Linked DNA regions of Homo sapiens: regions 2 and 3 are each linked to region 1. The links come from fine-mapping of genetic effects on gene expression. A gene starts in region 1. Each other region holds a variant in brackets. All regions are shown on one strand. Distances are from middle to middle. Region 1 holds the start of SPTSSA (serine palmitoyltransferase small subunit A). Region 2 has its middle 93 kb from the start of SPTSSA. Region 3 has its middle 83 kb from the start of SPTSSA.

The links. PIP is the estimated chance that this variant, and not a neighbour inherited with it, causes the effect.
Region 2: its variant is fine-mapped to the expression of SPTSSA in whole blood (TOPMed, PIP above 0.99).
Region 3: its variant is fine-mapped to the expression of SPTSSA in esophagus mucosa (GTEx, PIP above 0.99).

What each region holds. Positions count from the first base shown.
Region 1 is chr14:34,459,991-34,465,217 of GRCh38, forward strand. SPTSSA (serine palmitoyltransferase small subunit A) reads right to left here and starts at 2,250. Exons shown (of 2, transcript NM_138288.4): 1 at 2,106-2,250. The coding sequence starts at 2,217. RefSeq lists enhancers at 1,463-1,572, 2,113-3,063 and silencers at 1,973-2,142, 2,263-2,772.
Region 2 is chr14:34,366,829-34,372,055 of GRCh38, forward strand. No RefSeq gene overlaps it. Among named protein-coding and RNA genes, the nearest start is that of SPTSSA, 93 kb to the right of the region's middle. The variant G/T (reference allele first, on the strand shown) is at 2,609.
Region 3 is chr14:34,377,107-34,382,333 of GRCh38, forward strand. No RefSeq gene overlaps it. Among named protein-coding and RNA genes, the nearest start is that of SPTSSA, 83 kb to the right of the region's middle. The variant C/T (reference allele first, on the strand shown) is at 3,164.

The sequences.
Region 1 (5,227 bases):
AAGCTTACTAATCATTAATGGATTTATGAAATTCAAACTACTTCAGAGTAAGCCTCCTGACAAGTAGGGAAAAAAATCCAGTTTTCTCATTCAGTTCTTTCCACCAAGCTAAAATGAGGATTCAATCTCAAATTGATGTTCCAAACTATCAGATAGTTTTAAATGATTCTAGAAGTTGAAGTGGAAAAATATAAATACAACAGCTGATAGTAATTCAAGACTGGCTTATGTCAAACAATTGCATTTCTAACCTGAGTTAATTCAATAACGTGAAATTTGAAATAAGATTTTTTTATCTTAAGTTTAAAATCATAAGGTTCTATAATATTGGATGTCAGTTGGTTGCAGTTCTCACCTATTTGAAAAAAAAATTGAAACTACTTGTCGCTAAACCATGGTAACTCAAAAACATTAAAGGCAAATATCTACTAAGGCACTATATTTCATTTCATAATTTATTTCTCCATCCCCCAAAAAAGGCATCACCTAGTTATTTATAGGACACTATCACTATTGCAACATAACAGAAAAATCTTAACATCATTGATAACTGTAGCATTTTAGTGTGTAAAATCTATATTAGATTTTAGGTGTCAAATCTATACTAGATTCTAATAGTGCACTCTACATTCAACCTCTGATTTAAAGAGTTTCATTTTAACCCAGCATTGTTTAAATTAATTTTAGGATGTGTTATGTCAGTCAAGATATACTTGCTTCTACTGAGAGACTTCTATTAAATATGCATTCAAGTATATATTTTACAAGGCATGACCTTGCGAGCCCTAAAGAGTGAGACTAAACTGCAGCTACAAATAAATGGTGCAGGAAATCAAAGCAAACTATATTCAGAGTCTAAATCCAAAATATGCATTCTGGTTCTTAAATTCCAGGTTTGGAAAGAAATGCCAACAGTAATAAATAAATAAACTGCTTTGAAAGCATCTCAAATTCCTCAAAAGTGCTTAAACAAAAGACTCAGCTTTGAGTACAACCTTAAGCTATCTCAAAACAAATAAACACACTTGATAAGGCTTAGAATGAAATTACCTCAGTCACTCACTGGAATGCAACAATGCATTCGCAAAGTTATTCTGAAGTAAGCTACTCCAACTAAACCACACTGAAAAGGAGAGAACGTGGATAAACTAAACATGTTTTGTGAAATACCTGTTTTGTATTGGCCTGAGTTTTTTAAAAGTTACATCTCATTCATTATCAGTATTTAATCTGCAAGAATATCATCAAAGGATGTCAATATGGACAAGCAGAGACAAGAAACATCAGACTTTCAGGGAGCCTATCTTCACAACCCTGAGTTATTAACTGAAGTTCTCAAAGTTAGATGAGTTAAGATACAGACAACGTGCTTTGCACAAATGCTTTGCTTATAGTAACCACTCAATAGTCATTAACAAGAATTTATTAACTATCCACCAAAACACAGTTTCAAACCCTACCGACAACTAACCACAAATTGCACCACTTTTCGGGCCGACTTCTACGGACGGTGCACAGAAGCAATAAATACACTTTTAAAACTCCCCAACTTGAAGACCAAAAAGATACAATAACTTAAACTGCTTTCAAAAACTACTGGAGTGTCATGCCTACAAATTCAGAACCTGGCTTAAAAGCTAGTTAACTGACTAGAATTCTTGGTAGACCCAAAGCCAACTAAATCAGGAACACTTAAAGGTCAAAGGCGTCCAAGCCGGGAGCGATGTGCTCCACTGTTACATGATCCCCGCCTCCTACAGGAACAGGGGACTGAACCAAAGGCAGTTGCGGCCGAAGTGCAGGCGACACACAGGGTTACACATCACCTTCGGAGATTTCCTCCAGGAATCAAGACGCTTCCCCCTTGGGTCCAGCGACTCACAGGTGACCCCGGATCTCAAGAGTTCTCGTCTCCCCCACCCCCCACTTAACCCCGCGAGCGCCGCCCTCGGCCCCCAGACCTCCCCCTGCACCCCCGGCTTCCGCGCACAGGACCGGCGGGGCCGCCGCTCCAGCCTCCACCCCAGGCCCGGGGCCTGGGGAAATGCGGCCCCGCGGCCCGCGCCCCCAGCCCGGCCCCCGCGCGCGCGGCCGGGACAGGATACTGAACACCGTCCGCTCCCAGGGCTCCAGCATGTAGAGCGCCGTGACCAGCAGGTACTGGTAGTAGAACCAGGACATCTGCTTCCAGGCCCGCGCCAGCGCCATCCCCGCCATGCGCCTCCCGCGATGCAGCTCACACGTCAGTCTGTCCGGCCGGCCGCCCGCTCACGTCCTAAAGCCCCCGGCCGCCAGGCCCGCCCGCCCGCCACCCAGCGCCCATTGGCCCGCCCGGCCCCGCCGTCACCCGCGGCACGCCCAGACCCGCGCGCGCCCCGGCCGCCGGCCCCCAGCCCCGCCCGACCCGCGCTCATTGGCCAGGCCGCTACCTCGCGTCGCGTCGTCCCCTCCCGTTTCCCCGCCCGGGCATCGCCCACGCTAGCCGGAGAACGGTCCCCGCGAGAGCGCCCAGCCGCGCCCCACCCCGCCCGGGCCGGCCGGTGGTGGGCGGGGCGTCAGTGCCGGCCGGGGTCCCGGGGCCCCCGCAGCCCAGCGGGCGCTCGGTCCGTCCAGACTGGCCCAGAGCGCTTGCGGAAGAAATATTTCTGGAACACTTGTTATGCCTCAGGCATCCTTCTGAGAAGGAGGATTGCCAGGGAGAACCGGAATGCCTTCGGTTCCTTACCTTGTGCAGCTGGCGGCCTAGCTGGGAGACAAGCATTAATCAAGTCGTGATCCGTGTAAGAGGAGATAAGGGGCTGAGAGAGGGTGAGGAGGCGAACGCCACCTAATAAGGAGGTCTGGAAAGGCGTCCTTGTAGAAGGGATGCACATTCGGCCTCCTTCCTCCCTTCCCCCACCCATGCACACACACACACACACACACACACACACACACACACACACACACACCCCTAGACGGACATAACCCATGCACTCCCTAACCCAGAGACCACTTACCAAAAACATCTATCTGCCCACCTCTTAGTGGCTGTAGGTAACCACCAAGTGGGTCAAGGCCAGAAGCGCGCTGATCTAGTGGGTTCTGCAGAAGACAGGCAGCTTGAGATTGGTGTGAGGGCTGGTGATACTTCCCTAGAGATGCACTCCTGGATGCCCAGATTTTCCCACTGCCAGATGGGCCAGCAACATTGCACTGGCCACAAGGAGCTCCATGCACTGGTGTAGCATGTGAACTGCCACAATTAAATGGCCTGCTGTTTAAATGTTAAAAGTCTTCCAGGTTAAACATACTACTGCTTAAACTTTAAAAGTTTCATGGTTAATAACTATTCATTAAAAGTACCAAGTGCCGGCCAAGCGCCGTAGCTCATGCCTGTAATCCAAGCACTTTGGGAGGCTGAGGCTGGCGGATCACTTGAGTCCAGAAGGTCGAGACCAGCCTGAGCAACATGGTGAAACCCCGTCTCTACCAAAAAAAATAAGTAAATACATAACAAAAAGTTAGCCAGGGGTGGTGGCGTGCACCTGTAGTCCCAGCTACTCAGGAGGTTGAGGCGGGAGGATTGCTCGAGCACGGGAGGTCGAGGTTGCAGTGAGCCAGGATGGTGCCACTGCACTCCATCTTAGGTGGCAGAGCAAAAGAAAGGAAAGAAAGGAGACAGAGAAAGAGAGGAGAAAACAGAAGAGAAGAGAAGAAAAGAAAGAAAACAGTAAGTAATATCAAGTGCCAGACATTGGGATAGCAAGCCAGATAGACTGAGACCTGCCTTCATAAAGTACCCAGTCTGCTGGGGAAGAGAGGCAAGTTAATGGATTACAGTGAGGTGTGGTAAATGATATTTTTGTGGATCGTATCCTTTAGGATACCAAGATAGCCCAGACAAAATCAGATTGGGCTTGTGAAAGTCTTCTGAGAAATGGTGCTTGAACTGAGTGTTGAAGGACAAGCAGAAATGGAAGAATGAATGAGCTTGGGGAAGAGAGGGTGAGACAGACATTCTAAGGATGAAGTTGTGATGTTTTTAGAAGACTGGAAGAACTTCCATGTGGCTGGAGCAAAAAGAATGTATATGCAGTAGCAAGAGATGGGCCTAGACAGCAAACAGGGACCATATTCTGAAGGACCTTGTTTGAGAAGCTAAGAAATTTTTAACTTGATGTCCAAAAGTTACTGGAGCCAACAACTTAAATAAGATTTTCTTTCAGGGCTGGGTGTGGTGGCTCACACCTATAATCCCAGCACTTTGGGAGTCCAAGGCGGGTGGATCACATGAGGTCAGGAGTTCCAGACCAGCCTGGCCAACATGGTGAAACCCCGTCTCTACTAAAAATATAAAAAATTAGCCGGGCGTGATGGTGGGTGCCTGTAATCCCAACTATTTGGGAGGCTGAGGCAGGAGAATCGCTTGAACCCGGGAGGCGGAGGTCGTAGTGAGCTGAGATCACACCATTGCACTCCAGCCTGGGCAACAAGAGCAAGACTCCGTTTAAAAAAAAAAAATGCTTTCGGAACAAGACTTGGGTGTGGGTAGTAGCCTGGAGGCTACCGAGGGAAAAAACAGGTTGGGAAGACATTACAAAGGTAGAACCCACAAATACTTGAAACCTCCTTACCCCTCAGAGATGCAGGTACACGTGCCCTCCTACTTTCAAACTTAACTGTTTTGGACTTCTTTCTGTCCCTGTTCCTGTTCAGGCACAGGCAAGCTCATTCCTTTTTCCTCGAGAACTCCAACTACCCTCAGCATCTGGTGATGCTACATAAAATTCATCCAAGATTGGAAGCATCACCCGTAGCCACCCTTCCTTTACTGGGTCCACTCCCTAGCACCATGTCTGCCAGGTGGTTGTCCTCACTGTTAGTAGCTCCCAATCCACTGCGTGTCTCTCGGAGACCAGCTCTACCACCTCATCTCACTAAAGTTGGTGACTGACTAGAAATGAGGAAAAGAGGCTGAGATCCTGGATGATGACAATACAAAGAAACCGAAGGAAGACGTTTGGCTGAAAAGATATTGATTTTGTTAGGATGAAGCTATGTCTGAGGTACCTGAGGGACACTTAAATGGAGGTGTCCAGGGGACAATTGAGCACATGGTTTGGAACTCAGAAGTGAAGCCTGAATGGAACTAGAGGCATATGAATTTTCAATATGTCCCTGGTCATTGAAGCCAGAAGAGCAGATGAGGTCACCCAAGGAAAGCACATAGAATGGGAAGAGCAGG
Region 2 (5,227 bases), 93 kb before region 1:
TGGATGAAAACTTGTTAGCATACGGGCTATCCCTAGAGTACCAAAGTACCATCCCAGGGACCACTTACTTTTACAAAGAAGAGAAACTGGGCCAGGCACAGTGGCTCATGCCTGTAATCCCAGCACTTTGGGAGGCCAAGGTGGGCGGATCACAAGGTTAGGAGTTCGAGACCAGCCTGGCCAACATGGTGAAACCCCGTCTCTACTAAAAATTCAAAAATTAGCTGGGCATGGTGGCACACGCCTGTAGTCCCAGCTACTTGGGAGACTGAGGCAGAAGAATTTCTTGAACCCGGGAGGCAGAGGTTGCAGTGAGCTGAGATCGCGCCACTGCACTCCAGCCTGGGTGATAGAGCAAGACTCCATCTCAAAAAATATATAAAATAAACAAAGAAGAGCAACTGTACCTTTGAAATGGAGAGGTATGGTGGTGACCACCTTAATCCAGTGATTGAATTTCACATCACAAAAAATGGAACACTGTGGCATTACATGCTTCCTGATATGATGCAAATTCAACAACCTAATCTAAGGCAGTAGCGCTTCTTAATTGCATTAGAATCACCCGAGGAGCTTTTCAAACTCCTAATGCCAACTACGGCAGAATCTACTTGGGCAGGGGCGGGGGCCGGAGTTGCCAAGCATCAGTATTTTTTAAAGCTTCCCACATGATTGTAATGTACAGTTAAGATATTCTGAACAAAAACGTATACTCGAATCTAACTTCTAGTTTAAAGAATATACAGGAGATAGAGCAGTGGTTCTTACTTCTGACCTCATATTAGAGCCACCCGGAGATTTTTGAAAGTAGGGCCACCTGGGCTGCATCCCAAGGGCTTCTGATTTAACTGGATTAGAGCAGCACTCAGACATTTGTATGAAATTTCTAGGTTTTTAGTTTTGTATTTAAAACCCCCAGTGAGAACAGAGTGGACCAATTTATTACTTCTTCTTTGTAAGGCCAATTAATCAAAACAAGGAATTCTAATGTACAGCCCGGGTTAAAACTTACTGGGAAAGAGGAACAGGTTAACATCAAGAGAAAACACAATCTAGAATGTGGGACATTCTATAAGGCTGCGAGCCTGGATTCTTCAAAAAGTCAATGTCATGGAGGGAAAAAAAGAGGGATAAAACATTCTATGTTAAAATGAAGTTTTAAAATGTAATGTATGCATTAATTTGAGAGAAACAGCTACAAAGACATTTTGGAGGAATTAATGCAGTTTGTTTGTTTGTTTGTTTTTCTGAGACAGGGTCTCGTTCTGTCATCTAAGCTGGGGTGCCGTGAGTGGTGTCATCATAGCTCACTGCAGCTTCAACCTCCTGGACTCAAGTGATCCTCCCACCTCAGCCTCCTGAGTAGCTAGGCCTATAGACATGCACCACCACTCTTGCCTTTTTTTTTTTTTTTTTTAAGAGACGTCATTTTACTATATTGCCCAGACTGGCCTTGAACACCTAGGCTCAAGCAATCTTCCTAAAGTGCTGAGATTACAGGCGTGAGTCACCATGCCCGGCCAGAAATGTAAATATTTAGTTGATTTTAGATAGTTAATTTTCTTAGCAGGGATAATGACATTTTGTTTCTGTGGATAAATATCTGTATTCTTAAGGGATGAAATGCTGAATATCGAAAAGTGTTGTGTCATCATGTGTACATAATTTGCTTTCAAATGGCACACAAAAAAGAAAACCAAAGTACAGAGAAAAATAAAGCAAGTATTGCAAAATATTAACAATTGTGAAATTTATGTGGAGGGCATATGGGATTACACCATAATAATCTTTCAACTTTTCTGTGTGTTTGAAATATTTCATAACCGTAAGTTGAAGAAATGAGAAAGATTTTAAATAGAGATAAAAACTCACTTACAAGGCCATGGAATTTCCATCTGTTTTACTTCTCTGCAGGCAAGTCTACTCACAACTCCACCACACTCAATCAACCTTACACCACACCCAGCAATTAAAGGCTGCCTTTCTCAATCTTTGCCCACTAGATTTCGTGCATTCAAACAAGTGTAGAAAATGCTGGGTTATATTGGATTTATCCACAATCAGGCATGGCAAACACCACCAGGAAGCACTTCTCTCTTGAGCTGACCTGCCTCGCCTATGACATCCAAGAAGACTGGCAGTTATGGTATCCATGACAACTTTCCTATCTCATTTGGGCTTGAGAATCAGGCTTCCTCTAGTCTCTGACAGAGGCACTTCAAAGTAACAAGCCTGCAAATATTCTCATGGCACAATACAAGCCATATATGAAATACAAAACTATCTACCTCCCTGCCCTGGCTAGTCCCTTGCTGTGGGACAAAAATGCTTAAGCCATGATGGTAGGGCTCTCCTGGTAAGTATTTAGCAAAGGAAAGGAAGCTTTACAACATGACAAATGGCAAAAGGTGATTTCACTCTTTTCCCCCAGAATCATCAGAGGCTCTGCCCCACCTGTTAAGACTACAAAGCGGATAAAATACTGCCAGTCTGCCAGGAGCTCATGGTCAACCACAGTGGACAAATACCATGCTTCTAATTAGGCAGACTATAATAAACTGCATGATAGGGGTGTTTCCAGAGTGGTGTGGGTCTACAGAAGAGGGAA[G/T]TATTAATTCCATCTGTGGGTGTTGGAGAAAGCTACACAACGGAGTTCCTTGGCTTTTGACGGGGGAAGTGTTGAGAAATGAAGGGAAGGGCATCCAGGCCAGGCAGAACCATGCCAGCAAATGCACCAGTATGTGAAAGCACCCAGTGTGTTCAGGAAGTGGCACCAATTTGGTGAGGGGGAGAACAAGATAGGACCAAGATGCCCTGACTTCTTTGCAGGGCAAATTTTACTTAAGTGATTTACTGATTTGCTCTCCTCCTCCTCCTCTCCTTCTCCTCCTTCTTCCTTTTTCTTTCTTCCTCTTCTTCTTTTTCTTCTTATCATTATTATTATTATTATTCTCTCTTTAAGCATTCAAAAAAGATCTTGCATAAGAACTCAAGGGAGGGAGCACATTCCTTAAGTGGCATTCTAAATAGGGCTTTCCTAAGGCTCAGAAATGGTAGGTGCCAGGGTAATTGCTTGATAAGCAAACTGTACGTGTCAGGGCAGGAGATTCCAGGTCACCACAGTGCTTGCACTGAGGACAGTGCTCCCTAAAACTAGGCATCTGAGTTCTACAAGTAGGACAATGCAGCTACTACTTATTAAGAGCAGATATATTTATTCAGTTAATTTTTAAATTACATTATCCTTGTCAGCACTAGTGATGAAATAAAAATGGCTAAATTAATTGTGTCAAACACTGTTGGACATCATCTCTGTTGTTGTTGTTGTTGTCGTTGTTTTGTTTTTATTTGTTTTTTGTTATGGAGTCTCGCTCTGTTGCCCAGGCTGGAGTGCAATGGCTCAATCTACACTCACTGCAGCCTCCACCTCCCGGATTCAAGTGATTCTCCTGCCTCAGCCTCCCGAGTGGCTGGGATTACAAGCATGCGCCACCACACCCGGCTAATTTTTATATTCTACCAGATGGGGTTTCACCATGTTGGCCAGGCTGGTCTCGACCTCCTGACCTCAGGTATTCCACCTGCCTTGGCCTCCCAAAGTGCTGGGATTACAGGCATGAGCCACCGCACCCAGCCGACATCATCTCTTTAAAAACTCCCAAGGACTCCACAAAATAGGTACCATTATTATTGCCATTTCACAGATCAGAAAACGGATACCCAGACTTCAATAACTTACTTAAAATTACACTAATAAATGAAGCTGGAATATGAATTTCATAAGTCCAACTCCAAAGCCTATGCTTGATTACTTATGTTAAGTATGTAAGACATTTAAATAATTGTTCTGTAATAGTCTACTGTTAGGCACAAACAAAAGCCTTTATTTAGGTTTCTCTGTACTTTAGAGTTGCCAAATTCTTGCTAATATTTTATATTCCCCACAGCACAAAATAATACTGGACACCATTGTTCACATTCGTGTTGATTCGTAAGAAATATGTAAGGAAACATTATACTATACCCTTACTAGTGAAAGAAAATTGAGAAAGAGCAAGTGACTTGATGGGTGGATTGGCTGGTATGTCTGTTAGTCTGTGCATCTGTCTGTCTCTGTCTTTCCCTCAGGTTCTCTTACTGTATCTCCCTTTCTGTCTCATGTCTGTCTGTCTGTCTCTTTCTATCTAATTTTTATTTTTGCCTCTAAGTCTCTCTGTTTCTCTCACTCTCTCTCTCTCTCTCTCACACACACACACACACACACACACACTCTCTCTCTCTCTCTCTCTCTCTCTCTCTCTCTCTCTCTCTCTCTCTCTCAATTAAATTTCATAGCTACGACTGGGAGCAGTAGCTTATGCCTGTAATCCCAGCACTTTGGGAGGCTGAGGCGGGTGGATCACCTGAGGTCAGGAGTTCGAGACCAGCCTGCTCAACGTGGTGAAACCCCATCTCCACTAAAAATACAAAAATTAACCAGGTGTGGTGTTGCACACATGTAGTCCCAGCAACTTGGGAGGCAAGAGAATTGCTTGAACCTGGGAGACAGCAAGCCAACATCGTGCCACTGCACTCAGGCCTGGGTGACAGAGCAAGACTTGGTCTCAAAAAATAAATAAATAAATAAATAAATAAATTTCACAGCTGTACATTGCTTCCTAGACCTGGAACAAATTAATATTCTAGAATCAAATAGATATCATAAAACATTCCTATAGGAAGCCTCAAGTCCCTAGGAACTCAAGTTATCAGCTAAAGGGCACTAAAGGGCAACAGCAAAGAATATGGGTTCTGGCTGGGCGTGGTGGCTCACACCTGTCATCCCAGCACTGTGGGAGGCCGAGGCAGGCAGATCATCTGAGGTCGGGAGTTCAAGACCAGCCTGACCAACATGGAGAAACCCCATCTCTACTAAAAATACAAAATTAACCAGACATGGTGGCGCATGCCTGTAATCCCAGCTACTTGGGAGGCTGAGGCAGGAGAATTGCTTGAACCCAGGAGGCGGAGGTTGTGGTGAGCCGAGATTGCACCATTGCACTCCAGCCTGGGCAACAAGAGCAAAACTCCGTCTCAAAAACAAAAAAAAAAAGAATATGGGTTCCAGGGTCATACAGACCTAAGTCCTTGTAAGCTACATGAATTACAGCAAGTTATAAACTTAGATGAACTACAGTCTTCTTGTCTGTGAAATGGATAACGTTGTAACCATCACATGTAGCTGTTG
Region 3 (5,227 bases), 83 kb before region 1:
GATTGACTGAAGCCTTTGGATTTAACTGAACCAGGCCAGGCCTCACTCAGAACAACCTATTTGCTATACAGGTTTCCATGGGAACATAAAACCAAGAAAAAACAATCTGAATAAATAGCTCCAAAGTTGGCTTTCATTAAGCCATACTTTAAAGATGAAATACTCAGAACATGTATCATTTTTTACAAAAGACCAGGACCACCAAAAAAAAAATATATATATATATACTCATATATGTCTGATTTGTAAGATCCAATAATCTGGACAATTTCTGATATGATAGTCAAAAGTCTCACTATAAAAGGGATGGGCTCCTAACATTAGATTCTCTTTGATGTGACACAGTGGGAGGTACAAACATCACTTACTGGTAAACTACTGAAAATAGCAGGTTTAAATCTAACTATGATCCAGGGTATAGGCTGTCGTGTGGGACAACTGATCTGGACTCTCAAAGTTCAGGTCATGGAGAACCAAGGAAGGTTGGGGGACTTCCTAGACTGAGACCACAGAGGGATCCTTCCTCTTCCCAACCCCTGCCACAAAAATCCTATTCCTCTGTCTTCTCTATCTTGAGAAATGTCAAGCTGACCAAGCCAGAAATGTCTCTCTTTCTTGCTCCATAAGTAATCAATCACCAAATCCTATGTATCTTATAAACTTTTCTTCTCTATCTCTACCCCACTGCCCTGTTCTTGTCTTCATTGTCTCTCTTAAACTAAATATTAAACAAGCATCCTCCCACTGGTCTTTCTTGCCTCCAGTCTTGCTGCCCTCCAATCTATCTTCCACCCTTCTTTCTCTACAGAGGATGTTTCCAACACAAAAGTCTGATCACACCACTACCCTGCTCAGAATCTTTCAGTGGCTTCCTAGTGTCTTGAAGATAAAACCTAACAAACTCCTTTTCCATGGTAGGCAAGGCCTTCTGTGATCTTCATCCCTGCATTCCTTCCTAGTCTCAGTCTCCTTCTGCACCCATTCACAGCCAGTTCTCCAGACATACTCGATTGCTGTGGTGACTCTGAGTACGTGCTGTCCTCCAGAGCCACTGGGCCTGCACACATGCCATTCTCTGAGCTACATACTATCCCCTCCACCTCTGTAACAACCCCTCCCCACACACTCCTCCTAGAGAAGATATGTCTGTTGGAAAGCTTTGTCTGCATTGCCCAGATCTACTAAGAAGCTCCATTTCTCCGATTTTCTCATTGGTCCAGATATATAACCTCATGAAAGCAATTTATTTCTTTGTATTAAATTATTTGTTTATGCAACTGCCTTCCCTGCTGACTATGAGATTCTTAATGACATGGACCTTGTTTTTAATTTGGCTTTTTTTAAGTGCCTAGTCCATTCTGAGTTTATAGTAGGCACTCAACAATTGCTTATTTTAAAATTGACAGTCATCCCAGTGAAATTGTTTATTTCTTTGTTTTTAAGGACTTTAATTTCCAAATTATAAAGAGCTATGACCAGCTAAAAATAGGAACAAGAAAAGAGACTGGGAATGTGAGCGACTGCAGGAAATGAATTATTTGAAAGTCAAGCCTTTGGCCTTTTCCTTCTCAACGATGAGATAAACCCCAGCCTTCAAAGAATGTTGGGTAAAGTGGGGATGGGTGGGTTAGGGGGTTGAAATGCAAAGCAGGAAACAAGCTCATTTTGGATATCAAATTAATTGTATTGGACTAAGGAAAATTTACCCACACCCCTATGTTCTAACTCTATGATTTTAAAAATACAATATTCTATGCACACAGGAGGTGGTAACCAATGGGAAAAGGAGGAGACTGGTGCCTTCTCAATCTCTGACAAACAATCCAAAGATTGTAGAGATCCAAACAAAAGGATCTCTACATGAAGCACTATTGATACCAAAGAATCTGGCCTCGAGGAGGGATTCTCCACATTTTGCATACCACCAATCACTCTCAAAAAGCCGAGGTCCCATCCACTGCATAGCAAAAGCCCATTTCTGTTTTGTTTTGTTTCTGAGACAGAGTCTCGCTCTGTCGCCCAGGCTGGAGTGCAGTGGCGCGATCTCGGCTCTCTGCAACCTCTGCCTCCCAGGTTCAAGTGATTCTCCTTCCCCAGCCTCTGAGTAGCTGGGATTACAGGCACGTGTCACTTCACCCGGGTAATTTTTGCATTTTTCGTGGAGACGGGGGTTTCACCATGTTGGCCAGGCTGGTCTCGAACTCCCAACCTCAGGTGATCCACCCACCTCGGCCTCCCAAAGTGCTGGGATTACAGGCGTTAGCCACTGCGCCCTGCCACAAAAGCCCATTTCTTTAGAACACATTTATATGTTTAACTTCTTCTTATAATTATGTTTATGATACAGAGTAAGCTTCAAGAACAGAACAACAACAAGGCAGTGGGATTGTTGGAGCGAATTCCATTATGACTTCTTGCTAGCTGTATGAGAACACTGTGGCCAGAGCTCAGGAGGCCTCCAGGGAATACCTTGCTCTGGGAAACACAGGCTTTGATTCAGGCGGCATTGAGAAATCCTTTGAGGGAGACCTCCCATCTGCTGATGAGAAGAATGCTTCCCTCTCATTCTTGGCACCCTCACTTGGCTGGCAAGGTCAGGTGTGTTTTTCCAGTGACTAGCTCACAGCAGGGATAGAGGAGAGAAGCCCTTGGGGGCTGAGAGACAAAGGGAACCAGACTGCCCAGCGTCTGGTCAAGGTTTCCAAGGTCTTTTTCAAGGTTTCGTTTCCCAGCACTCTGTCTTCAGTTTACCAAGAAAAAGTTCGTAAAAAGAACCTCTTTAGTGGCCTTTGAAGAAGGATAGAGAGAGGGAGGCAGAGTCCAAGGGCCCTGTGAGCAGAGTGGGAAGGACATGGAGAACAAAGAGGCTCACATGATGGGGTAACTAGGGATTGAAGATATCAATCACCTTTGAGAAATAAAGTAGAAAAAGAGAGAGAGGGGAGGAAACACACAAATACCAGAATGGACTAGTGTATACCAGCTATTCAGCTAAAAAATGAAGAAAGAAAATGGACAGCCAGAGACAGCCTTTGAGAAGTTTGTTGAAAAACTATTTTAGATGAACTACCATAAAAGTACTGTTAACAAGTAGGAGAATTTTAAGGGGAACATTAGAAATTCAGCCTCCTGCATTCGTTTGTAAGGGACAAGGAACTAGTCA[C/T]GCAGTGGAGATGAGAGATAAGCCAGGAATGAAATGAAAACTTTGAAAGTTCCATGCATAGGGATAGCAGGATAATGATTTAAAGCATGAAGGCAGTAATTTAGGTCTAAAATGTCACCACCATTAATTGTAAGTTTTATTGTAGTCTGTTAGGGAAGAGTTCTCTGGGGATTATGAATAACTGCTTCTTGAAATGGAAACTGCAAAAACAATTGACATTTCTACAATCCTTAAGGAATAGAACTTTGAGAAAAATGACTTCTCAGGTGGCTATCTGAACATCAGTGTCTGAATAACTAACATTCATCCTTGCTTTATGTCACCCTCATTAATCAGTTCATATTAAAGATAACGCCATACATGTAATTATAGGCATAGCATTACGTTAAGCATTTAAGACTATCATATTGCACCATATCTTGGCCGTGGTGATGTATGGCCCCAATTTGAGAACACGTGTCAATTTTCCATAGATTTTCATCTGTATTCATGACTCAAGGGCCTTTAGCAAATTAATAATCAAAAGAATTTACAGTAGGCTGCTTTGTAAGTCCACACTTCATTACTTAGCATACTTCTCACTTGTTTTAGCTCTTAAAAACTTGTTCAGCTTCCTAAAAATATGCTTAACCTATTTTCCAATTGCCTTTGTTCCCGTGCTAGATGTTTGTTTGTTTGTCTGTCTGTCTGTCTGTCTTTAGAGATTTGGTAAGGGGGCGGGGGTCTCTCTATGTTACCCATGCTGGACTTGAACTCCTGGACTCAAAGAATTCTCCTGCCTCAGCCTCCCAAGTAGGTGGGACTACAGGTGAACACCACTATGCCTGGCTTGTTAGATTTTTAAAATCTAAGCACATGTGGTTTCATTTATTTTATTTTATTTTATTATGATTTTTTTGAACTTGTATTTTAGGTTCAGGGATACATGTGCAGGTTTGTTATATAGGTCAACTGCATGTCACCAGGGTTTGGTGTACAGATAATTTCGTCACCCAGGTAATAAGCATAGTCGCTGATAGGTATTTTGTCTAGTCCTCTCCCGACTTCTACCCTCCACCCTCAAGTCAGCTGCAGTGTCTGTTGTTCCCCTCCTAGTGTCTATGCATTTTTCTTGTTATAAGCTCCCACTTATAAGTGAGAATATGTGGTGTTTGGTTTTCTGTTCCTGTGTTAGGTTGCCTAGGATAATGGCCTCCAGCTCCACCCATGTTGCTGCAAAGGACATGATCTCATCCTTTTTTATGGCTGCATAGTATTCCATGGCGTATATGCACCACATTTTCTTTATCCAGCCTACAGTTGATGGGAATTTAGGTTGATTCCATGTCTTTGCTATTGTGAATAGTGCCATAATGAACATATGTGTGCATGTGTCTTTATGGTAGAACAATTTGTATTCCTTTGGGTATATACCCAATAATGGGATTTTTGGGTTAAACAGTAAGTCTAGGTTTTGTTTTGTTTTGATTTGTTTGAGACGGAGTCTCGCACTGTCGCCCAGGCTGGAGTGCAGTGGTGCAATCTCAGCTCACTGCAAGCTCCGCCTCCCAGATTCAGGCCATTCTCCTGCCTCAGCCTCCCAAGTAGCTGGGACTACAGGCGCCCACCACCACGCCCGGCTAATTTTTTGTATTTTTAGTAGAGACGGGGTTTCACTGTGTTAGCCAGGATGGTCTCAATCTCCTGACCTCGTGATCTGCCCGCCTCAGCCTCCCTAAGTGCTGGGATTACAGGCATGAGCCACTGCGCCCGGCCTTGTTTTGTTTTTTTGGGACAGAGTCTCACTCTGTCACCCAGGCTGGAGAGCAGTGGCGTACTCTCGGCTCACTGGGACCTCCACTTCCTAGGTTCAAGCAATTCTCATGCCTCAGCCTCCCAAGTAGCTGGGATTACAGGCATGTGCCACCACACCCACCTAAGTTTTTTGTATTTTTAGTAGAGGTTTGCCCATGTTGGCCAGGCTGGTCTTGAACTCCTGACCTCAAGTGATCCACCCAGCTTAGCCTTGCAAAGTCCTGGGATCACAGGCCTGAGCTACTGCACCTGGACTGGGTAAGGCTGTTT